Regions from separate parts of the Homo sapiens genome. Here regions 2 and 3 are each linked to region 1. The links come from fine-mapping of genetic effects on gene expression. Tissue or cell type: whole blood. Region 1 holds a variant in brackets; each other region holds the start of a gene. All regions are shown on one strand. Distances are between the middles of the regions.

Region 1 (8,106 bases):
CCTGTATTATCCTTGTTCATACATCACAGCCATCTGTTTTCTTCCCTAATTAAATGGAACCATCTTTATCTTATCTAAACCCACTTCTAGTAGCAAAGATTTATTGACTTTTTGATTTATTGTTAGGCTTCCATTTAACAAACAATTTTTAAGGAAAGATGGAGGTATTAAATATGAACTACTCTACACTCTGTTTCTGAACTGTGTTTTCAACCTAGTAGTTTAATTAGTTTAAAATGAGCAAATCACCTGCAGTAAATGAGGATCCTAATTGTTCCTGCCGTAATGCTGATTTTCATATGGGATCTCAACGTATTTTCCTAATTGCCTGGTGGGCACTGTTTCTCTCAGATGTGAAGAAATATGTCTGCAGGCTTATTGGTTGGGCAGGCTTGAAATGATGACTAGGTGAAGGTTAATTGTAGCTTCTCAAGAGGTTGATTTTATCATTGGCATTTTGGCAGAAATAACAGGCTTTGCAGAATACGCAAACTTTATCTAGGTGTAGTGTTGTATTAAGACCTGATACACCAGCAGAAAACCACAAATTTCTTTATAGGAAAGAAATCACTCAGTCTTTAAAATTTCTGAGGTCCAGCCAAACCTCCATGCCACTATCAAATTCCACATCTTCAAGATTTCAAGTCAGACCAAGAATTAACACATATGCTGAGGCTAAGCTAGCTATCATCCTAGCTAAGGGGACACTTTGCTTTGATATTAAGAGAATCTGAGCATCTGCTCTCCTTGCCTTAGGGATGGGGAAAGCGAGAATCCCAAGGAATCAGATGAAACACTGAGTCTATTTTTTTTTTTTGAGACGCAGTTTCGCTCTTGTTGCCCAGGCTGGAGTGTAATGGCATGATCTCGGTTCACCGCAACCTCTGTCTCCCAGGTTCAAGCGATTCTCCTGCTTCAGCCTCCCAAGTAGCTGGGACTACAGGCATGTGCCACCAAGCCCAGCTAATTTTGCATTTTTAGTAGGGACGGGTTTTCTCCATGTTGGTCAGGCTGACCTCAAACTCCAAGGGGAGTTGGGATGTGAAATCAGGGGCCCAAAAGAGTACAGGATACAAGGGTGCACCCAGTGACCAGGAGATTCACACGCATCACACACCATGCTTTTTGTTTTGTTTCCCTTTTTTCCTTTTTTTTTTCCTTTATGCATCAAGCTTCATTTCTAAGCTCTTGCCAGGTGTCTGGCAGTAACCAAAGGAAGCTTTATAATACATGGGGTGCACTCCTAGTAAACAATGTCAAAGACACTGTAAAAGGAGAACAACTAAGGAACATCAGTTGTCCCACAAAATTGATCTGACCCAATATGATATTTTTCATGGTCTGAATCCTTCTAGGGCTAGACTAATAATAGCAATTACAATTTTCTTATTTCTCAGATGCAAGGGTTGTGTTTTGTGTTTCTGTTTTGAGAGACAAGGTCTCACATTGTCACTCAGGTTGGCACGCAGTGGCATGATCATAGTTCACTGCAGCCTCAAACTTCTGGGCTCAAGGGATCCTCCTGACTCAGCCTCTTGAGCAGCTGGGACTACAGGCACATACCACCACTACTGGCTAATTTTAAAATTTTTTGTAGGGATGGAATCTTGCTATGTTGCCCAGTCTGGTCTTGAACTCCTGGTCTCAAGGGATCTTCCTGCCTCGGGCTTCCAAAATGCTGGGATTAAAGGCGTGAACCACCAGACCCAGCTGGTTTTTTTGTTTTGTTTTTTACACCTTAACATCTCTCAAATCAAGACACATCTTACAACACATGTCAAAAGAAACTCTTTAGGCTGGGAGCGGTGGTGGCTCACGCCTGTAATCTCAGCACTTTGGGAGGCCAAGGCGGGTGGATCACTTGAGGTCAGGAGTTCGAGACCAGCCTAGCCAACATGGTGAAACCCCCCGTCTCTACTAAAAATACAAAAATTAGCCGAGTGTGATGGTGCATGCCTGTAATCCCAGCTACTCAGAAGGCTGAGGCGGGAGAATCGCTTGAATCCGGGAGGTGGAGATTGCAGTGAGCTGAGATTGTGCCACTGCACTCCAGCCTGGTGACAAAGCGAGACTCTGTCGCAGAAAAAAAAAAAAAGAAAGAAAGACACTCTTCAGCCATTGATAGAGTGGTGGTTCTCAGCCTCCACTGCACACTGAAATCATCTGGGGAACTTTAAGAATACTGATGCTGCCGGGTGCGGTGGCTCACGCCTGTTATCCCAGCACTTTGGGAGGCCGAGGAGGGCGGATCACGAGGTCAGGAGATCGAGACCATCCTGGCTAACACAGTGAAACCCTGTCTCTACTAAAAATACAAAAAAAATTAGCCGGGCGTGGTGGCGGGCACCTGTAGTCCCAGCTACTCCGGAGGCTGAGGCAGGAGAATGGCGTGAACCCGGGAGGCGGAGCTTGCAGTGAGCCGAGATCGCGCCACCGCACTCCAGCCTAGACGACAGAGCGAGATTCCGTCTCAAAAAAAAATAAAGAAAGAAAGAATACTGATGCCAGGTTACTAATTTAGTTGGTCTAAGATGCAGCCTGAGAATCTGGAATTTGTAAGGTGATTCTAATGTGTGTCTAGAGCTGACAGCCCAGAGGTAAGGAATGAGTGGGTAGTGTATACTCAGCAAAGTTTTTATTGCCTACACATTTGGAAAAACAATAAGATGGGGGGCATCATCTTATAACCAACAAAGTGGATCCCTCAAAACATGAAGTCTTTCCATGTTCAGTGTCATGAAGCCAATACACAAAACTAAAATTGTCAAGTAGAGCAGGCTTTATTCAATGGCCATGGAATTAAGAAGTGGAAGCATGGCTCACAAATCAACTTCTTGACCAGTGAGGGGTGAGGGGTGCAAATAAAGAGTTTCTCTAACGAAGAGGATGGACATTAAAAATGAAAAGAGGGGCCGGGCACGGTGGCTCACACCTGTAATCCCAGCACTTTGGGAGGCCAAGGTGGATGGATCACGAGGTCAGGAGTTCAAGACCAGCCTGGCCAATATGGTGAAACCCCTTCTCTACTAAAAACACAAAAATTAGCTGGGTGTGGTGGCACGCACCTGTAATCCCAGCTACTTGGGAGGCTGAGGTAGAAGAATCACTTGAACCTGGGAGGCGGAGGTTGCAGGGAGCCCAGATGGCACCACTGCACTCCAGCCTGGGTAACAGAGCAAGACTCTGTCTCAAAAAAAAAAAGAAAGGAAAATGAAAAGAGGAAGACTCAGGTCTTTTCTGGAAAGGGTCAGTGAACTTCCCAGAACTGGAGTGATGCCTTCCTCCTTTTTTG[T/A]CCTTTTATAGCTTCTTCTGGTCATTGTCCTAGCAATTGTCCACTGTTATGGTGATGGTCAGAGTGTCATTTAGCATGGAAATGAGATTATAATGAAGCCCGAGTTCTTTCTGAAGTCATTTGCTCAGCTATTTTGGTTCTAACCAGTCTCAACTGTTCCGGTTACAAAGGGAACTTTTTATTGCAGGCATCCTGTTTCTTAAAGCAGTGTTAGGGCAGAGCAGAAATTCAGCTATGTCACAGAGGCATTACACCAGCTAACAATTTCATCATTCTGTTACTTGTTATTTCCTTTGAAAGTTGATAAACTTAAATTCACATCTTAATTATCACTTAAAAGGTCTTTTAAAAGATCCCATTATAATGCAGTATAGAAATGAAAAAATATATTGTACATGCATAAAATTAATAATCATTCACTGGATAATATACAATTGAAATAGTCATACACTGGATAATATAATTAATAAAATTGTCAAGATGCTGAGAACAAATCACAAATTTTTGAAATCTAGGAAAAGTTTTTGGGACCAACTGATATGTGAAGAGCTATCATTCAGATGTCTAAATCTGTCAAAAGCTTCCAGCTACTTCCCAGAAGCTCTTTATTTCCTATTATTTATAATTCAGTTAACAGTAGCAATACAAACAAAATAGCCAAAAGAGAAATGCAAAAAAAAAAAAAAAAAGAAAAGAAAGAAAGAAAAAAACACACACATAATCCCACTGCATTCTTTAAATTATTCTGCAGCCTCACAAATATGCTAGCAAGGTCCAGATCTCGTGCAAGGGTAATCATTACATTACGTATAACTGCCAGTGGCCCTGCTTGATACAGAGGTACTTGGGGACCGAATTGTGTTTGTTAGTCTGAAGAGCAAAGTAGCATGTATTGTGGCAGATAATGCATGCTATTGTAAGTAGAGTTTTCCCAAGTGGTATATATTAAATGTTGAACTTGGCTTTGGTTTTCTCCAAAACAGTTCCATTTTTTTTTTTTTTTTTTTTTGAGACAGAGTTTCACTCTTATTGCCCAGGCTGAAGTGCAGTGGTGCGATCTTGGCTCACTGCAACCTCCACCTCCCGGGTCCAAGCAATTATCCTGCCTCAGCCTCCTGAGTAGCTGGGACTACAGGCACACGCCACCATGCCAGGCTAATTTTTGTATTTTTAGTAGAGACGGGGTTTCACCATGTTGGCCAGGCTGGTCTTGAACTCTTGACCTCAGGTGATCCGCCTGCCTCGGTCTCCCAAAGTTCTGGGATTACAGGCGTGAGCCACCATGCCCGGCCAAAAGAGCTACTATTAAGCCAGTAGTGCATCATACAATCTCTAACTAGAACTTCTTACAATTGAGAAATCCAATCACTCATCATATCCGCAGGTTCCACATGGGTGCATTGAAACAAGCTTGGGTTGAAAATGCTGGGAAGGAAATTAAAAAAACAAGAAAAATAATACAAATAAAAGGAATACAGCATAACAACTATTTACAAAGCATTTACATTGCATTAGGTATTATAAGTAATCTAGAGATTTAAAGTATATAGGAGGATTTGCATATGTTACATGCAAATGCTACACCATTTTATATCAGAGACTTAACTATCTGTGAATTTTGGTATCCCAGGGGTGTCCTGAAACCAAGGCTTCACGGATATGGAGAGACAACCGTGCTCTAATAATGTAAGTTGCCAAATATTGAATCTTATTGTTTTCCAGGCAATGTACCAAGGGCTTTTAGTGAATCATCTTACTTACCCTTCATCTTACTTATGCATTTTTATTATTACCATTTTAGAAATGAAGAAACTGAAGCACAAGAGGTTAAGCAACTTGCCCAAAGTCACACAGTATACAAGTATGACAGCCAGGGTTTGAACCCAAATAGTCTGACTCCAAGACACAGGCTCTTAACCTGTAGGTTATATGACATATGATTGCTACACATAGGATGTACCACAGACAACACACTCATTCATACGATTAATATTTAATGAGCACCTATTAAGTGATAAATGCTGTTGTAACAATGCTATTACTGGGAATACCAGTGAATAAAATAGACAAGGTCCCTACGTTCTTAGAGCTGATATTCAAATAGGGAAATAATAAGTAAAGATCAAAATCATTTTAAGTCTTAATAAATACAACACAGGAAATCCAACAGGCTATGAGATAGAGAGATATGGAAAAGTCAGCAATTACCTCTCTGAAGGGGTTATATTTGGGTTGAAGAAGCCAAGACCAAGGGAAGGGGTAAAGGCCTTGAGGCGGGAACAAGCCCAGTAAGTCAAAGAGTTAGTGAGGGTGAGGTGCATGCAGTGAGAGGAAGGAGGGTGGAGAGCCCAGCCTGCTGAGGTTATATGAAAATGCTACACCATTTTATATCAGGGACTTGAGTATCTGTGAATTTCAGTATCTCAGGGAGGTCCTGGAACCAATGCCCCCGCAGACACTGAGGGACCACTGCAGGGAGGCCCTGCCAGGCAGGTGTGCCAGATAGGAATCTTTGGCTACAAAAACACCCAACCTGACTGTGGCTGACCTAAAGGCATAGAAGGAATATGCGAGAAAGACATGGGGCAGCTCAGAAAGATGGGAACGAGGGCAGCTCTGGGGATCAAGGTAGCAGGAACTGATGAATATCGGGTCTTATCAGAGACTGCCAAGGGGGCGCAAAAGCTCCAGCTCATCCTCATTTTATTGTCTCACTGCTCAAGATTTAATTCCAGAAAGATGGTGTCTGGTTTTGCTTGTATCCTGGGTCTACCTCTTAGCTGAGGGAGGGCAGGACATCACCACTTAGAATTCCAGCCACTGAATCCAATTTGAGTGCTATTTCTAGAAAAGTAGGGATAGAGGCTTGGCAGCAAAATGAGCAAGGACCCCTGCACCATGATGAAGTATTTGGGCTTATTCCAAGTGTAGCAGGAAGCCACTGGTGGGTTTTAAGCAAAGTGAAGTGACAGGTTATATCTACGTAATGTTTTAAATAAATGAATGCTGTTTAGTCTGGGCCTTTAATTTCTGGGATTTTTTTTTTTTTCTGAACAAAAGTAAATGCTTTGGAAATGGCAGAAAGCTGGGAGACATTTACAATCGTAGCAGAGAATAAACAGTGAGAGGGGAGGTTCTCTTCTATATTGACTTTATGTCTCAGAATGTCAAATGCTCACAGCTGATCTAGCTCAAAAAACAACATAGCTTCTACAACTCGGTAGAAACTGGGACCACAGCCAACTTGACTTGACACGTCTTTCCCAAGAAATGAACACAAGAAATTGCTGCCTCTAAGCTACCAGAAACTGAGCTGGGAATTTTTTTCTGATATAAAGATCTACACAACTGGTTTCAAAATTTTTTTAATTCTTTGAATCTTATTCACCTGAAAATCTGTCTCGTGGACTCTGGGGTCACAAAAACCCAGTTCCCAGCCCAGGTCAATCACTTACTAGATGTGAGCTTAGACAAGGTAATTAACCTTAAACAATAGTTTTAGTTTATCATAAATTAGAGATAATAATATCCATATCCTAAGGTGGTTGTGAGGATTAAGTTAGAAAATATGCTGTGTCTAGTGCAGGAGGAACTCACGGAGATTCCTCTTGTTTAAGCTGTTTATCCTTGCAATGGAGAATGGTCAGTATATAATTAAACATACATTGCTATTACGTTCACAGTGAGGATGTGGAGGGGTAAAATGATTTACAAAGGGTTTTGATTTTGAGTAACTTAAAAAGATTTATAGTCCTTGAATATAGTTCCCACCAATACTTCTTAGGGCAGGTATTAAGAGTAACTGTTACTGTTACTGGAGTGCTCAGTGTGTCAGGCACTATTTGAAGCATTTCATATTTATTAACTCATTTAATTTATACAACAACATCATGTCATTGGATTACCATTATCCCCCATTGTAAAAATTAGGAAACTATAGCAAATAAAGTTTCTGTATTTGCCCAAGGCCACACAGCTGGTAACTGACAGAGCTGGAATTTAAACCCTTACATGTCGGTTCTAGGGCCTTCACTCTTTTTTTTTTTTTTTTTTTTTTTTGAGGCAGAGTCTTACTCCGTCGCTCAGGCCAGAGTGCAGTGGCGCGATCTCAGCTCACTGCAACCTCCACCTCCCAGGTTCAAGCATTCAAGCAGTTCTCCTGCCTCAGCCTACCAAGTAGCTGGGACCACAGACACCCGCCATCATGCCCAACTAATTTTTGTATTTTTAGTAGAGACAGGTTTTCGCCATGCTGGCCAGGCTGGTCTCGAACTCCTGACCTCAGGTGATTCGCCCACCTCAGCCTCCCAAAGTGCTGGGATTACGGGAGTGAGCCACCATACCCAGCCCTGGGGCCTTCACTCTTAACCATACTTTCCACATAGCAGAGAAGCACGAATCCACACATTCCCCAGCGAGCTGCTCCATCCCTTCCGTCCTCATATGCAAAGCTGTTCCACTTGGGATTTGGAGTAACAAATTAAAATTCCAGTTTTGTGTGTATTTTGTGGGTCCTCAAACATAGATTTGAATGATTTTCAAGTTTTAAATTGTGTTTAGCAGTAATTTATGTGAATATGCATTACCTGGAGGCAGAGACCATGTCTTCTTCAATATGACTCCATGCACCTATTGTTCCCTGTAAGCTGTTCCATGTGCACGTGAACAAACCAACCACAACTGCCCATGCACACACCTCTAATACTAAATACTGAGCAATGCTTCTCAGCTCCATCTGCTCACTACACTGGCATGTATGGCTTAAAGAAGATGTTATCAACTGGGATCAAAGAGTGGCTTTGGAGGAGAGGGAA
Region 2 (8,106 bases), 23 kb after region 1:
CTGGGACTACAGGGCTGTCTGAGATATGCCCTTCTACCCTTCCCTCTCTCTCCCCTTCACTCTAGGTCACACTGGCATCACAGTCTGATGCTCTCTCTGGCTAGCACTCCCCGTTTTTCCCTCCCACAAGCATTTACCCCAGTAAAAAATCTTAACATGTTTAATCCTGTTTTAGCTTCTGCTTCTCTGAAGACCCGAACTAACACACTACTTTCTCATGTTTTTTTGTATTTCCAACAGTGGGAAACTTACACTTGTCCTATGAGTTCTGGACTGTTTGTTCAGCTACTTACAAACGCCATTTCGTTACAGCAGCCACGGGGAAGCAGTGGATGAGAAGCAGGAATAATATAGGCCATTGTGAGTAAGGCTGCTATAAACATGTGAGCCACTGAAATCTGATACTTTTTCAGGGATCCATAGTTTCTGGTTCTTTCTGGTCAAGAGAGGCTAAAGGAAAGGTTTTTAAAGATATTAATTTTCTTAGTCAAGTAACTTAACCTCTCAAGGCCTCAGTGTCCTAGACTAGCACAGAACAAGCAGATGAAACAAAGTTTATATCAGAATGTCAACTGAAAAAGTATCATTTACCATAAATGGAAGATAATTGTATTAAATTCTAGTTAGATGCTAAAACTTCAAGAACTTTTAGAGTCTGTACCTGCATTCTGTTAAAAATATAGATTAAAAAATGCTAACATGTTAACACAAAGGACTTTCCAGAAAGACTTAAAGAAAAGTGAAAGGGGAATAACTGTCTTGCAATGTAATTCATTGTCGTTTAAGACTGGGTCTATGGAACACCCTAAATCACCTGGTTCCATCACGTTCTTTTTAACATGGAGATGGATAGTTTTTCCCCATACTCTATATATTGAGCATTCTATAGTTCATGATTTTTCTGCATAGAGAATTGTTCAAGCCGGGGGTGCAGGCTCACCGACTGGATAGTGAATCAAGAAAATAGTGTGTTCATTAGTTCATCATTACCCTGAGTTTCCAACAAGAATTTAGTACAGGAAAGTAGACAGCGGAGCTGGGAGCCATCTATTTGAAACTGTCTTAAGCAAAACTAAGAAACCGAGTAAGCTTGCTTTTGGTGTCTTTCATCCCTTCTTGTGTGCCCCCTAATTATTCACTCCCCAATGCCCAGACATTATGATGCCTTCTCCTGCTCAGAGACCTTTCTGGGAGGAAGACCTACTCAGACCTGGTATTCCCTCATCCTAGGCTCTACCCTATTTTTCATCCAGCTGTTAAAGCTGAGTGACTAATTTCACACTTATGTACGAATGACCCATAACTGGCTTAATGCTGTGACCATCTTGGGGGTATTCAAAGCTGATAAACACTTTTTTAAGTTATATAATAATCAAAGAAGCTTATCTTTCTGCTTTATTTCAAATTTCACCCCACAGGCCTTACTTATTTTTAAGATCAATGATTTTGATGGGCCCCCCCTTCCCACTCTTAATTCAGGGTATTTCTGGCCCCATCCGGATCCAAACTCTAATGCTCATCTCTTCCATACTGTCCTTTGCAGGTCATCGGTATTGCAAGAGTTGCATAAGGCCCAATTCAGTCTCTGCCCCAAAAGCTCAAGTCCAAACTTCAGAATCTGGGAGGACAAGGATTCAGGAAATTTTGTCAGAACTATGAGCTTTGAACTTTCACTTTTATGGTGAGGGTCACATTTGGTCTGAATCAATTAATCCATTACCCGCCCCCCCCCCCCCCCCCACCACCACCATGTGTGAATTCAAAATAATCAACTTGGGTTTATTATAAAAAACAAAATATATTAATATAAGTATACTAAGATTTTTCTAGAAAACTTGGCCGGGCGCGGTGGCTCACGCCTGTAATCCCAGCACTTTGGGAGACCGAGGAGGGCGGATCACAAGGTCAGGAGATCGAGACCATCCTGGCTAACACGGTGAAACCCCATCTGTACTAAAAATACAAAAAATTAGCCGGGCGTGGTGGCGGGCGCCTGTAGTCCCAGCTACTCGGGAGGCTGAGGCGGGAGAATGGCGTGAACCCGGGAGGCGGAGCTTGCAGTGAGCCCAGATCGCGCCACTGCACTCTGCCTGGGTAACAGAGTGAGACCCTGTCTCAAAAAACAACAAACAAATAAACTTAGAAGAATATATGTGACTATTGGCCGGGCGCGGTGGCTCACGCCTGTAATCCCAGCCCTTTGGGAGGCCGAGGCGGGCAGATCACGAGGTCAGGAGATAGAGACCATCCTGGCTAACATGGTGAAACCCTGTCTCTACTAAAAATAAAAAAATAAAAAATAAAAAATGCGAGGTGGCGGGCGCCTGTAGTCCCAGCTATTCAGGAGGCTGAAGCAGGAGAATGGCGTGAACCCGGGAGGCGGAGCTTGCAGTGAGCCGAGATCGCGCCACTGCACTCCAGCCTGGGCAACAGAGTGAGACTCCGTCTCAAAAAAAAAAAAAAAAGAAGAAGAAGAAAGAAAAAGAAAAGAAAAAGGAAAAAGAAAACTTAATTCTGGCAATGGACTGTTTCTAAAATAATATATTAATACTACTTAATGAGGAAGAAAAAACCTCTGACATCCTAAAATGCCAAGTGTTTGCCTTTACCAAGGTTTAAGCACACATAAACACGCATATTCAAATACCACCCAAAGTGGAGGTGCAAAGATCAGCCTGTACCGCACAGTAACACAGACTGGGTTGTTTTTTGTAAAGAAGGCAACTAGTCCAGTGAGTAATCCCTTCATTTTCCACACACATACCCTTCTGTTTTCTCCCTCTCCTCCCCCCACACCCTCCACTGCAGTTAAAACGTAATTCGAAGAAGCCTAAGGTAAAAGCCCCTGCCGCATAATGACCCTAGAGCTTCACCTCACCTACTCTGATTCTTAGTAACCTACCTCTAAGGATGAGAGACAGGGTGCTACGAGCGGGGCGAACTTTGGTCCAGGAGTTAAGAAACCTGAACCCTGGAGTCCTCAAAAAAAATGAATGAAAATAACAGAGGCGCCCTGAGGATCCAAGCTGGGGCGGTGCCAAGGGCTGGCAAGTGAGGTTGGGACAACAGAAGTCAAACGTGCCGTCCTTCCAGATCCCGGCGCTTATGGCGGAAGCCACTCCAGGTGAGAAATCCTAACAGTCATAATGGCATAACAAATAAACATCGGCAAAACAGCAGTCTGCCAACGACGTGCTTCCCTACACAGACGTCCTCCTGTCTCCACACTCTAGAGGGGAGAGGCGGAACAAATGCTGCCTCCGCAGATTTTGGAAATCCGGAAGGGAGCCTCCGAGCCCAGGTCCCGGGCTGGCAGGGGTCTCGCCGGCGCTTGGACCTCGTCTCCCACCCCCGAGCCCACTGCGGCCCCAGAGCCTCGGGAGGGGCCGGGCACTTCCTCTGCCCTCCGGCCTGGGGCAGGGGCCGGGACGCGGTGGGAGTGCAGCGGGGACGGCACCGCCCGAGGGGGCGGGCCCCAAACTTTCGTGCGCGTTGAAAGCTGCTGGCGCGGCGGGGCGGACTCCACCCCTGCCCGGCAGCCCAGCGCCTCCGGCCGCACTTCCAGCTCTCTGCGCAGCCCGCCGCGCAGCCCGCCGCCCCAGCCATGGCGAAGCCCCTGACGGACCAGGAGAAGCGGCGGCAGATCAGCATCCGCGGCATCGTGGGCGTGGAGAACGTGGCAGAGCTGAAGAAGAGTTTCAACCGGCACCTGCACTTCACGCTGGTCAAGGACCGCAACGTGGCCACCACCCGCGACTACTACTTCGCGCTGGCGCACACGGTGCGCGACCACCTGGTGGGGCGCTGGATCCGCACGCAGCAGCACTACTACGACAAGTGCCCCAAGGTAACCGGGGGCGGGACGGCGGGCCGGGGTCCAGCCCGGAGTCGGAGTCTCCGGCCGCGGCCGGGCGGGACGAGGTGGAGAACCCCTCAGAGTGGTCCCTTGCACCCGGTCCTTGCCCCGAAGTCCAGAGGAGACGTGTCTAGGCTGTGGGCGGGCAGCCTGGGGGACAGATTAGGCCTCCCAACAGACGCCGAACTCATGTCTCCGAGGTGCCACCCGCCAGTGTCCCGCCCAAACCACTGTGCCGTCCGCCCCTGGAAACCGCCAGGTGGGCAAAAGCCCAGGCCCCTCTCGCCTGTCCACTTCACAAACTTTTTTGGAACTTTGACTCTCAGCATTTAATCAAGAGGTGACGGGGGCCTCTTGTCCTGTATGCCGGACACTATTCTCTGCCCTGGACACTCAGCCCTAAACAAAAGGGACAAAAATCTTGCCTTGCTGGAGCTTGGTATTTTGGGAGGGGAGACAAACGCCGAGCTGGGAAAAGGTCGTAAGTCTCAGGCCTCTGGGAGTGGCTAAGTGTGGTGCAGAGGAGGGGCAGGGTCCCGCTCCAAGCGTAGAGCGCCGCCCACCCATTCTCCTGAGTGGGTGTAGCTCCTGGAATTCCGTGAGTCTTTCGCAAAGGCGGCCCAGGGCCAGGCAATGCCCTGGACTCGTCCTCCCCGAAGACACACACTCCCCCGACCCTTAGCCCTTCCACACCCGAGGCCTGCCCCCAGAGCTGCTGAGGAAGGCTGGTCAGGGACCACCTCCATCCACGGCGTGGGGGCGGGAGCAGAGACCTCCTTAGGGTGATTTTGGACCTACAGAGGGACAATATCTCTGCCTGACAGTTTGCGAAGAGGGCGAGAGGCAGTGGGGAAGGACTGGGGAGGACATGGCAGGGAGAGGGATTGTGTGCAGGCTGGAGTGAGGGCGGGTGTGAGTCTGTATTGGGAGAGGAAACTGGAGAAGCCAGGTAGAGACATATTGGAAAGAATAAAAGATTGGGATACATCCCAGGGGCAGTGGGAAATATATATAAACATTTATTAGAACTTTTTAATTATGTAAAGGTGTGAAGAAAAAAAAATGGTCTATAATCCCAGTGCCCAAGAAACCCCATAGGAATTTTTAAGAAAGGAAATGAATGTAAATTCTCATAGTAAGAAATTGCAACTGTAACAGTTTTCAAATGGAAAGTAACTCTTCTTCACCCCAAAGACCTAGGCCTCCACCAAGGTAGCAACTGCTAAAATGTATCCTTAAAAATTTAAATGCACCTTAGAAAACACTTTATGTATACATATATTTACTGTTTTGTTGTTTTGTTTTGTTTTGTTTTGTTTTGTTTTGTTTGAGACAGAGTCTCACTCTCGCCCAGGCTGAATGAAGTGCAGCGGCGCCATCTTGGCTCACTGCATCCTTCGCCTCCAGGGTTGAAGCGATTCTCCTGCCTCAGACTCTCGAGTAGCTGGGACTACAGGCTCCTACCACTACACCTGGCTAAGTTTGTATTTTTAGTAGAGACAAGGTTTCACCATGTTGGCCAGGCTGCTCTCAAACTCCTGGCCTCAAATGATCCTCCTTCCTTGGCCTCCCAAAGTGCTGGGATTACAGGTGTGAGCCACCACACTCGGCCACTATCTTTTAAAAATTTATTTACACAAAGGGAATGCTACTAAGTACACCATACTGCGCCTCTCATTAAAAATTATTTTTAACAATTTTAAGCGGAAGGGTGGGACACTGAGCATATATTAGAAACACACACTCACGCCTCTGTAGCATTTAGCATCATAGAGCACCAGAGAATCTTGTATGTTTTTCCTTCAGTGGCTTATGCAGTGCTTTATGGTTTTCCTGGTTCTCCGGCCAGTTTCTTCACTGGGCTCTCCTTTTCTACGTGAGTGCAGATATAAGCCAGGAATTCCGACGTGTGTAAATTCTGATAGCGATACACTGGGGATACAACAATGAACATGTTTCATTCCACACGTGTTCATCAAATATCTACTCCATCACAGTCGTCTGTCTAAACAGGATGGTTCCTGCCCTCATAAAGTAGAGCAAGTAGGTGTGTCCAAGCTCCTCTCCCACCTCCCTTGCTCTCCAATAACTGTGCAGATGAATCCCAAATATGGATCCCTAGTCTGAATTCCTTTTCTAACTCTATGCGTACATTTCTGAGTGTTTAGTGAACATATCTAGATATCTTCCTATTTCCTCAAACTCAGTACGTTAAAAACTCAAACCATTATTTCTCCCAATCCTGCCCCATCTTCCCGTGTTTTGTTTTGTTTTGTGACAGAGTCTCACTCTGTCACCCATGTTGGAGTGCAATGATGCAATCTCGGCTCACTGCAACCTCTGCCTCTCGGGTTCAAGTGATTCTCCTGCCTTAGCCTCCTGAGTAGCTGGGATTACAGGTGCATGCCACCATGCCCAGCTACTTTTTGTATTTTTAGTAGCGACAGGATTCCACCATTTGGACAGGCTGGTCTCGAACTCCTGACCTGGTGATCCACCCACCTCGGCCTCCCAAAGTGCTGGGATTACAGGCATGAGCCACCACGACTGGCCTCTGTGTTTTTTGTTTTCATGCCATTGTCATCTTGACAATCCAGACGCAAACTTTAGTCTCACTTTTTGCCGTTCAACTGTTTGCCAATTTCTGTTGATTTCTATAGGTTCCCTTGAATGACGTGCTCTCCTCCATTATCTCTTCCTGCCTTGGTGAGGCTCTAGCTACCCATTTGTTGCAGCTGACTTCACGTGGTTATTTTGCTTTCCAGAAGTGGTAAAACCGGCAGCCTGAGGCTGAATAAGGATAGCAGACATACTTTGTTGGCCAAGACATTTTTCAGGAATTTAATTTTTAGCGCCTGTGGTCAGGACTTGCACACTCCATTTCTTAGCCCAGTACTCTTCTTTGTTTTATGTGACCTCAATTACACATTTATTTTCTCTGCCTAGCTCCTGAAGGCATTTGAGTATATGATCCCGTCTCATTCTGTGCATTGTGGTCTGCTCAAGCTTCCTAAAGCAACGCATCTTGCCCCTGCTCAATTATCATTGGCTCCTCTTGCCTGCCATAGAACTTAAGCAAGTATTCGAAAGCACTTCTCAGTCCAGGTGGGCCTGTTCTTCCCTTGTTATCTTCCATTACCCTCTGTACCCACCTTGCTCTCCCAACAAACCAATCCCCACTCTGGGCCCCCGATTCACTTGCAGTGTCCTTCCTACCACATTTCTATGCTCAACTCTTGCCTGTCCTGCAAGTCTCAGGTTTATTGACAGGTGTTCCAGAGGTCTTCCCGGAAGTACCCAGGCCCTCTGACTAATGCTGGGGATAAAAATAAAACATACAATTTAAAAATATTTGTTATATCTTCTTTATTTTATTTTACAAGCCTTTTGAAAATATCCACTTTTTACATAAAATACTAGTAATCATAGTACATGCATGTAATTTATAAAGTATATTGGAGATGCTCATATATTTTACTATCAGTCATATGTAACAAATATTTAGAGACCAGTAAGTAAGAGTATGGCCAAGATCTATTTTTTGAAGTCTTATATATTCCCAAATATAAGGAGAGATTACCTCTAAGAAGTTATTTGTGAGAAAACAGGGAATCACCTTACGTTCCTGTCCTTATAAAGTCTGTCATGCAAGGAAGTATTTTCTCATTTACTTTATTCTGAGCAACCACATATCTCTCAAGAGAGACTTTGAAATATTTTTAAGAAGACTTAAGTTCGTGCTAATGTGGAATCATTAAAAAGGAGGCAAATTTAATACAGATGTAGTCATTATTCCTGGGGGTATAACCTCACAATTGCAAGTGTGGAATATATACTATATAAACAAGCTTTTTGTAGATTACTTAAAAGAAAAAGGCAAAACATCATGGTTATAGAGATAATGAAAATACACACATGGAAGGATTTTTTTAAACTGGGTAATACTATGCAAATGGGTATTTGTGGCTTAAGATACTATTACCTGTGACAGCGGTCATCACGTACTAGAGCACCAGCCATTGCCTATGTCTGCCCCAGAGAAGGTACTTTTATCCAATCATTCGAAGGTATCTAATAGCTGGTGAGGGTTCTAGTAACAGCATTATAGACATTCAAACAACTTGGATGAAAACGAAGATGATGTGTTCTGGAAAGCAGTGTTAGGTGGCCCGTTAGGTCATGGATGTTGACCATTTGTTGTGAAATTTAGAACTCAATTGTTCATAAAAGGAAAATGGGAAAGAATGAAA
Region 3 (8,106 bases), 270 kb before region 1:
TTGACCTGTGCCTCAGTTTTCTTATCTGTGAAATGGGGACATTACATATTTCACGGGGTTGTATAAGGATTAAATAATAAACACAAGATATTTGGAAGAGTGCTATAATAGGCAAGCGCTCGATAAATATTACCTATTATTACCATTTGGGATGGGACAGCCAAGAATCCAAGGGTAGTGTGACTACCGAGAACGGTAAGATGAGATTGGTCTGTGGAAGGAACCTCCTTAAGGGCAGGACCTGCCACTTGTCCAGGGACCAAGTCAGGAGTGCACTTGACCTCACAACCACGAGGGCTTTATATTTAGAAGCCCACATCCTCAAATCATAGGTACTAAATTTAAAACTCAATTTCAGAGATTCAGGTCTTCTTTTGTCAGGGAACGTGACCTTGACTCCAGAAAAACACTCAACCACATGCTCCTTATTCTGAAGCCTGGTATGGATGCAAATGTGGCTTGGCCAATGTTCACCTGAACCACAGTGTCCTAGGACTTCTCAAAGGCATCTTACATACTAGTCTGGGGCCTGGGATGCAAAGAACAACAAATCAGAGGCAGTTATGTGGGCAAGAATAAAAAGAGGGTAATGTCTTCAAGAACCCTTAAAGCAACACATTCAAGAAATGAGGTGTATACACAACCAGGGAATCTCCATTTTGCAACCATTGCACACTGAGCCCCCAGCAGGGAGGTGGACAAGTCAGGTTAACTAGCTGCAGACTGTTAGGTTTTCAAAACCTAAAGAAAGGTAGAATTAAGACTATGCAATGTAGAAAAAAGGATAAATATATCAACCCAAACAGCAAAGAAACAAAACTAACCAAAGACTTACAGTACCTGGCTGCTCTGTGACATCTACTTTCGCAATATTAACCTCAAGATCTTCTCCCCATTCAGCAAAACTTTCCCATTCCGGTTGAAGATTTTGACAAGCAGGGCACCACGGGGCATAACTAAGAAATACAGATTTTTTTTTAAAAAAAGTTAAGCACTTTAGTATGACCATTTATCTTGGGATAAAAAATTTAAATGTATAATTTATGAAGAATATTTCATATGAAAACACTGAAGATGATAAGGTGGTTAATTTTATGCAGATGAAAAACTTTTAAGGGTAGATCTAACAATCCGGAAATCAAGAATGATGAACTGATGATGCTAATCAAATAAAATTCTGAGAATAAGACACAGGATTTTTTCACATGCAAAACAGCTCTTTAGAAAACTTTTGCATTTCTCTATTAACGGTGTGGCCACCAGAAAGCTCAAGACCAAAGTTAGAGCTTACCAATTTTAATAATTTATAATGCAGAGTCACAAATGCAAGGTGTTGGAAAAACAGAAGTGTCCTGGGCTGTGGTGAATAAGAAAGCACATATTCCATCTTAAAGTGGCAACCATTATTAAGTAGGATTGCCACTAAGGATGCTGGCACACTAAGGCTGGCTATTCATATTTAAAAGAAGATGGAGAGCTGCATTTTTATATGAGAATGTTACCTCAAAAAATAACCCACACACAAATACTAAGCAGGCCAAACAAAACTCTTGGCCAGTTAGGTCATCCTGTTTCCAAGACCTTGGATTTACAAATGCAAGCATATTAGCATTTAAATTACTCCTCTGGTATTATCTCCTGAGGATCTTATTTTTCCACTTTATTGTATTTTATCTTATAATACACCACAGGGTTGTTCTTTTTTTTTTTTTTTTTTTAACAGAACCAGGAAGAATAAAGCCTAAAGCAGTTAAACACAAAACTATACTTTCTGTACTTCACATTTTCTTCACTTGTTTTATGAAAACCAAACTCCTAAAATAGACATTGTAGAACAAGACAAACTGGTAGTATAAAAGCCAAGCTCCTAACAATAAATCGTATTACAATGAAAATATCTCCATGACAAAACTTCTGAGCAGAAATGGATTTACTGTAGATAATTCACTTGTAATTAGGAGCAGACTATTACTAAAACTACTAGAGTCCTTCTTTTTCAGGTTCGTTTTGTTGCTCAGTTGCTTTTTTATTTTTTGAAACAGGGTCTCGCTTTGTTACCCAGGCTGGAGGGCAGTGGCGCCATCTGGGCTCACTGCAACCTCAACCTCCCGGGCTCAAGACATCCTCCCACCTCAGCCCAAGTAGCTGGGACTACAGATGCCTGCCCACACGCCCAGCTAATTTTTCGTATTTTTTTGTAGAGACTGGTTTTTGCCATGTTGCCCAGGCTGTCAGTTGCTTTCTAAAAACTTACTTTAGAATCTCTACTTAAGGAAAAAGAAAAACTACTACTCTATAGCATAATTTCAGATAGATGCTCCAATGTGGATTTACCTCATACTCAATGTTTTGTTAGTCTTGTTCTCCTTAATACTACTTCTGATTGCTGTATTTATATAGTTGGACCATAATGAGTTAAAAAATATCCTTGAGTAATACTTGACTGTATTTTGCATATACACACACGATCACTATTGCTTAATATATTGCTTATAACACTATTTTACAGGCACGATCTAAAACAAGTTACTCATGATGATGACTGAAAAAGTGTCACAGTTCCTCTCCCCTGAAGCTTTCAATGGTGCCTGAATGAAAATTCATTTCAGAATTGCAGACTACATGCATACTATGAAAATTTCCCTTTATCTTACCCTCCATATAAATGTTCTACTTTTTTTTTGAGATTGAGTCTCACTCTGTCGCCCAGGCTGGAGTGCAGTGGTGCGACCTCGGCTCACTGCAACCTCTGACTCCCAGATTCAAGCGATTCTTCTGCCTCAGCCTCCCGAGTAGCTGGGACTACAGGCGCGTGCCACCACGCCCAGGTAATTTTTTGTATTTTTAGTACAAACGGCGTTTCACCGTGTTAGCCAGGATGGTCTCGATCTCCTCACCTCGTGATCCACCGGCCTCGGCCTCCCAAAGTGCTGGGATTACAGGCGTGAGCCACCGCGCCGGCCAGTTTTGTTTTTTTAAAAAATAACACAGGACTTACTGATTTAGCCTTCTGGGTTCTCCCTTGGGGATGTCACTTTCACTGGCCTCCTTAACTTGACAACCCTTGCTGTATTCGTGACACAAGAAAACACTCACCTGAACCCTGTTGTCTTTTCATTTTTATTTATTTACTTATTTATTTTGCTAGTTGCCCAGGATCTCTTGAACCCCTGGGCTCAAGTCATCCTCATACCTCAATCTCCTGGGTAGCGTACGCCACTTCCAGCTGAACCTTTTTAAAGAAGAAGGTGTTCTAACAACAATTATTGTATGCCTACTCTGAAGACCCAAAGAAAGCCAGCACAGCAATATCTGCATAGGTTAACTAAAGTATTTAGGTATCTTGTTACTCATTTGTAAAACGTGAAAAACACCTGTCATAGAGAATTTGTAGGGAATTAAATATGGTATTCGTGTAAAGGTGCTTAGTGGTGTCCAGTACACTGTTAATAATTATGCTTTTACTATTATCAGTAAATACTGCTAATATGTATAATACCACCATCAACAACGACTTAGCATCTAAAGCAAAGACAGATACTTTATTTCCCACCGCGGCAGAACAGATATTATTAAATTGAAATCACCACACAAAATACATGATTTCGTTCGAGCAATAAATGATGACCTGGCGCTCTTGAGAGTGTATACATTAATACATTATCTTTTAATGTAATACCATTTACAAAGACCTAGGAGTCACAACCCAAGGTATTCTCTACACTACAAAGACACCCAAAGGAAAAATGAGATGAGGAGTGAAAAAAAGAGAAAGCAAAAGAGGAGGCAAAAAGAGAAAACGAAAACTTAAAAATAACCCAACTTGAATTGACTCAGTATTTACAATAAAAAAGAAACGTACCCAATCCATTAAAAAAAGCTTAAAAGCGCCAAATTCCAACACCATAAAGAGACTATCTTTTAAGGACAGACAAAACGAGAGGAGAAATTTTGCTCAATATTCTCTTATGTAAAATGTGGTGAAAATAAGTGTAGAAGTCTGTGAAGAATCACTTTAACTACTTAGACACGAGTCGGACACCTCCCTCCCCGCGCCCCAGTCGCATCCTCAAAGTCATGAAAAATGTCAGAATTCGCATTGGCACTAACCCTTTGGGCGCACCACAACCCAAGAAACGAAACGAGGGTGCACCCCAGAAGAAACTTAACATTCACGGGTAAGAGACGAGGGGGTGGGACCAAGCTGGCGGCAGATCCCAAGAGTTTGGGGAGCTGCAGAAGTCGGGGACGCTCGCTCCGCAACTCGGAGGCGCAGTCCTGGGGAGCCTGCGACCCGCACGAGGAACGTGCGGGGTGAAGTCGTGTGTCCAGGCACGGACGTAGGACCCTGGCCGCCCCGCACTCACAATTCTATCATCCAGTCTCCTTCCAGCAGTTCTCTCCAGTTCTCGTCCGTGATGACGCGAACGTTGCTCCGCCGCCCGTGCGTCCAGGGAGCACCCCAAAGCAACAGCACCAGGACTGCCAGGGGAACTGCAAGACTCCCGGAGGGCGCCATTTCGCCGCTTGCCCACCTCACAGGGAGCGCGGTCGCAGCTCCCACTTCCGCCCTCGCGGGCTGCTCAGCGCAAGCGCACTACGGTGCTGCGAGGAGCGCCTGTCTAGAGGACTCTCAATGCGCATGACAGGGGTCTGATCCCAGTGAGTGGTGAAGTCGGGAAAGAGGGAAGAACGACTCTCCGCAATGCGCATGACAGAAAAGCGGCTGCTTCTACCGCCTAGGGTGTCCCAATATTGTGGGGGAAGGAACAGAGCAAAAGGAGGCGTGGTGTAAAAAGTGGGGCGGTGCTTTGAGGAAGAACGGTTTAAAAGACCCTCCCAGGATTTTGGCGCCAAATGGTTAGCGTTTACAAGCAAATTGGTAAGTTTATAATGTGCTAAAGCAGTTTTCCAATTAAATGTCCTTCAGAGTTCTCATTTGTTTTCTTTGAAACATGTAGTAAAGCTAATGGATTTTATAGGAGTCGGAATATTGGTTTACTTCTGAGAGATTATAGACAGGGAAGGTGCAGAGGAACATTATGGTTATGTTGGATGTGTTGGAGGTGTTCAACATCTAGATATGAACAGTAGTTACATGGGCGTACGTATATGATTTTTTTTAAAGAAGGATCAAGCTGTACATTTTAAGACAGTGCACTTTATGCACTTTCAGGTGTATGTTATCTCTCAAAAAAAATTCAGTAGGTACAGAGATCCTAGGTCAGTACTTCAAAATGGAACCAGACACATAGGCTTGTAAGATATTTGAGTTTTTTCTCTCAAACATTCGTAAATACAAATGCAAACCAAAATGTGCACTGCCCCATCAGTCAAATGAAAATAGTTGCAGGTGCGGTGGCTCACGCCTGTAATCCTAGCAAAACAGGGAGGCCAAGGCAGGCGGATCACTTGAGGTCAGGAGTTTGTGACCAGCCTGACCAACATAGTGAAACCCCGTCTCTACTAAAAATACAAAAATTAGCCAGGCGTGGTGGCAGGCGCCTGTAGTCCCAGCTACTCAGGAGGCTGAGGCAGGAGAATCGCTTGAACCCGGGAGGCGGAGGTTGCAGTGAACCGAGATCATTCCACTGCACTCCAATCTGGGCTATAGAGAGAGACTAAGTCTCAAGGAAATAGTTGCCACTATCTTACCTCACCTTTTCAACTTAATTAACCCCAATTAGTCCCCTTCCCCACCCCTCCACTGAATAGCCCTCTCAAGGACACCAGCGACCAGCAAGATAAATCCCAATTGTTTCTTCTCAATGCATCTAGCATGACTCCTAGCCCCATTCTACCACACCCTTGAAACACTTTACTATCTTGCTGTCTGGGCAGCTCGCTTTTTTTTCTGTCCTACAGTAGCTGATTCTTCTCAAACTTCTTGGCTGGTCCTCCTTTACTTCCGGACATCGGCATCTCCAGGATGCTTTACTGCCCCCCGCCCCCCATCTCCCGCCACCTTTCTCTTCATATCATCAGGCTCTCATCTTTCTGGGAACTACAGGCATATGTATTCAACTGTATATCATTCAGACTCTGATCTTTCTGGGAACTACAGGCATATGTATTCAACTGTATATCATTCAGACTCTGATCCTTCTGGGAACTACAGGCATATGTATTCAACTCCTTGCTAAACATCTCTTGGGTATGTAATAGCTGGTGAAAGGAAAAGAAATCTTGGGGCCCCAAAATCATTAAGCTAAAGGGAAAAGTCAAGCTGGGAACTGCTTAGGGCAAACCTGCCTCTCATCCTTCTTCTCACTGAGATAAATGCATATCTGATTGCCTCCTTTGGAAGGCTAATCAGAAACTTAGAAGAATGCCACCATTTGTCTCTTACCCACCTATGACCTGGAAGCCCCTTCCTGGCTTCGAGTTTGTCCCGCCTTTGCTTTGAGTTGTCCCACCTTTCCAGGCCAATACAATGTTCATCTTACATATGTTGATTGATGTCTCATGTCTCCCTAAAATATATAATATAAAATCAAGCTGTGCTCCACCCACCTTAGGCACATGTCCTCAGCACCTCCTCAGGCTATGTCATGGGCGCGCATTCTTAATTTTGGCAAAATAAACTTCCTAAATTGACTGAGACCTGTCTCAGATTTTGGGGGTTCAGAAGCTCAAACATCAAACGGCCAAAAAAGATAATTCTTGATTCTTCCTCTCCTGGTCTTCCATCCACTAAAGAGCCCCGAGGTTCACCAGGTTTCTCTAGCCAAACATGTACATGTTAATTCTTTATTGTTCTCTCTCTTCACCTTCTCCTCTTGTAACCTATGAGCAAATCTTGTAAACGTTACCTTCAAAACGTATCCTGAATCTGACCACCAATTTCCATCTCAACAGCCAACACCCTAGTCCAGAGTTTTCTTGCCTTGAGTACAATGAGAACTTCCTAAATTTGTGAGAAAATAAATTTCTATTGTTTAAGCCACCCAGTCTATGATATTTTATTATGGCAGCCCAAGCTAAGACACTAGACCTCCATTACAATGTTGAATAGAAATGGCAAGAGTGGCCAAACATACTTATCTTGTTCCTGTTCTTAGGAGAAAAGCGTTGTCTTTTACCACTAAGTATGATGTTAATGTGAATTCTAAATAGTTGCCTTTTATACAGGTGAGGAAGTTTCCTTCTATTCCTAGAAGGTCGTCTGTTTTTATCTTGAAGAAGTGTTGAATTTTGACAAATCCTTTTTCTGCATTTATTGAAATGACCATGTGGTTTTTGTCCTTTACTCTATTGATATGGTGTTTTTTTTGTTTTTTTTTTTTTTTTTTTTTTGAGACGGAGTCTTGCTCTGTCATTAGGCTAGAGTGCAGTGGTGTGATCTCAGCGCACTGCAACCTCCGCCTCCTGGATTCAAGCAATTCTCTTGCCTCAACTCCCGAGTAGCTGGGATTACAGGCACGTGCCACCACGCCCAGGTAATTTTTATATTTTTAGTAGAGACGGGGTTTCACCATGTTGGCCAGGATGGTCTCTTTCTCTTGACCTCATGATCTGCCTGCCTCAGCCTCCCAAAGATACAGTGTATTACATTGATTGATTTTGGGACATGAAATCAACCTTGCATTCTTGGTATAAATCCCACTTAGCCATGGTGTATAATTCTTTTTATATATTGCCACATTCAGTTTGCTAGTATTTTGTTGCATATTTTTATGTCTATATTCCTTAGAGATATTGGTCTGTAGTTTTCTTGTAATGTCTTTGGTTTTGCTATCAGGATATAACTGGCCTCGTAAAATAAGCTGGGAAGTGTTCCCTCCTTTTCTATTTTTTGGAAGTGTTTGTGAAGAATTTGTATTAACTCTTCTTTAACTGTCTGATAGAGTCTAGCAGTGAAGTCACCTAGGCCTGGGCTTTCCTTTGTAGGTAGCTTTTAAATTACTAATTCAATCTCTTGTTATAAGTCTACTATGATTTTCTATTTCTTCTTGAGTTGGTTGTGGTAGTTTGCATCTTTCTAGGAATACGTCCATTTCATGTAAGTTGTCTAATTTGTTGGCCTAACGTTGTTCATAGTATTATAATCCTTTTTATATCTGTAACATTGATATTAATGTCCTCTCTTTATTGCTGGTTTTAGTA

What was found. PIP is the estimated chance that this variant, and not a neighbour inherited with it, causes the effect.
Region 2: it holds the start of PYGL, and the variant in region 1 is fine-mapped to the expression of PYGL in whole blood (TOPMed, PIP above 0.99).
Region 3: it holds the start of TMX1, and the variant in region 1 is fine-mapped to the expression of TMX1 in whole blood (TOPMed, PIP above 0.99).

What each region holds. Positions count from the first base shown.
Region 1 is chr14:50,963,283-50,971,388 of GRCh38, reverse strand. No RefSeq gene overlaps it. Among named protein-coding and RNA genes, the nearest start is that of PYGL, 23 kb to the right of the region's middle. The variant T/A (reference allele first, on the strand shown) is at 3,293.
Region 2 is chr14:50,939,902-50,948,007 of GRCh38, reverse strand. It overlaps PYGL (glycogen phosphorylase L), which reads left to right and starts at 3,525. Exons shown (of 20, transcript NM_002863.5): 1 at 3,525-3,847. The coding sequence starts at 3,605. It overlaps LOC124903314 (a long non-coding RNA gene), which reads left to right and starts at 5,418. Exons shown (of 2, transcript XR_007064163.1): 1 at 5,418-5,899; 2 at 6,803-7,207. LOC400212 (a long non-coding RNA gene) reads left to right here. Exons shown (of 4, transcript NR_170195.1): 3 at 241-360; 4 at 1,544-1,718. RefSeq lists a silencer at 3,346-3,505 and an enhancer at 4,174-4,697.
Region 3 is chr14:51,236,706-51,244,811 of GRCh38, reverse strand. It overlaps TMX1 (thioredoxin related transmembrane protein 1), which reads right to left and starts at 4,565. Exons shown (of 8, transcript NM_030755.5): 1 at 4,368-4,565; 2 at 841-956. The coding sequence starts at 4,519. LOC124900346 (small nucleolar RNA SNORA70) reads right to left here and starts at 722; the gene lies at 588-722. RefSeq lists an enhancer at 4,287-4,526 and a silencer at 4,387-4,729.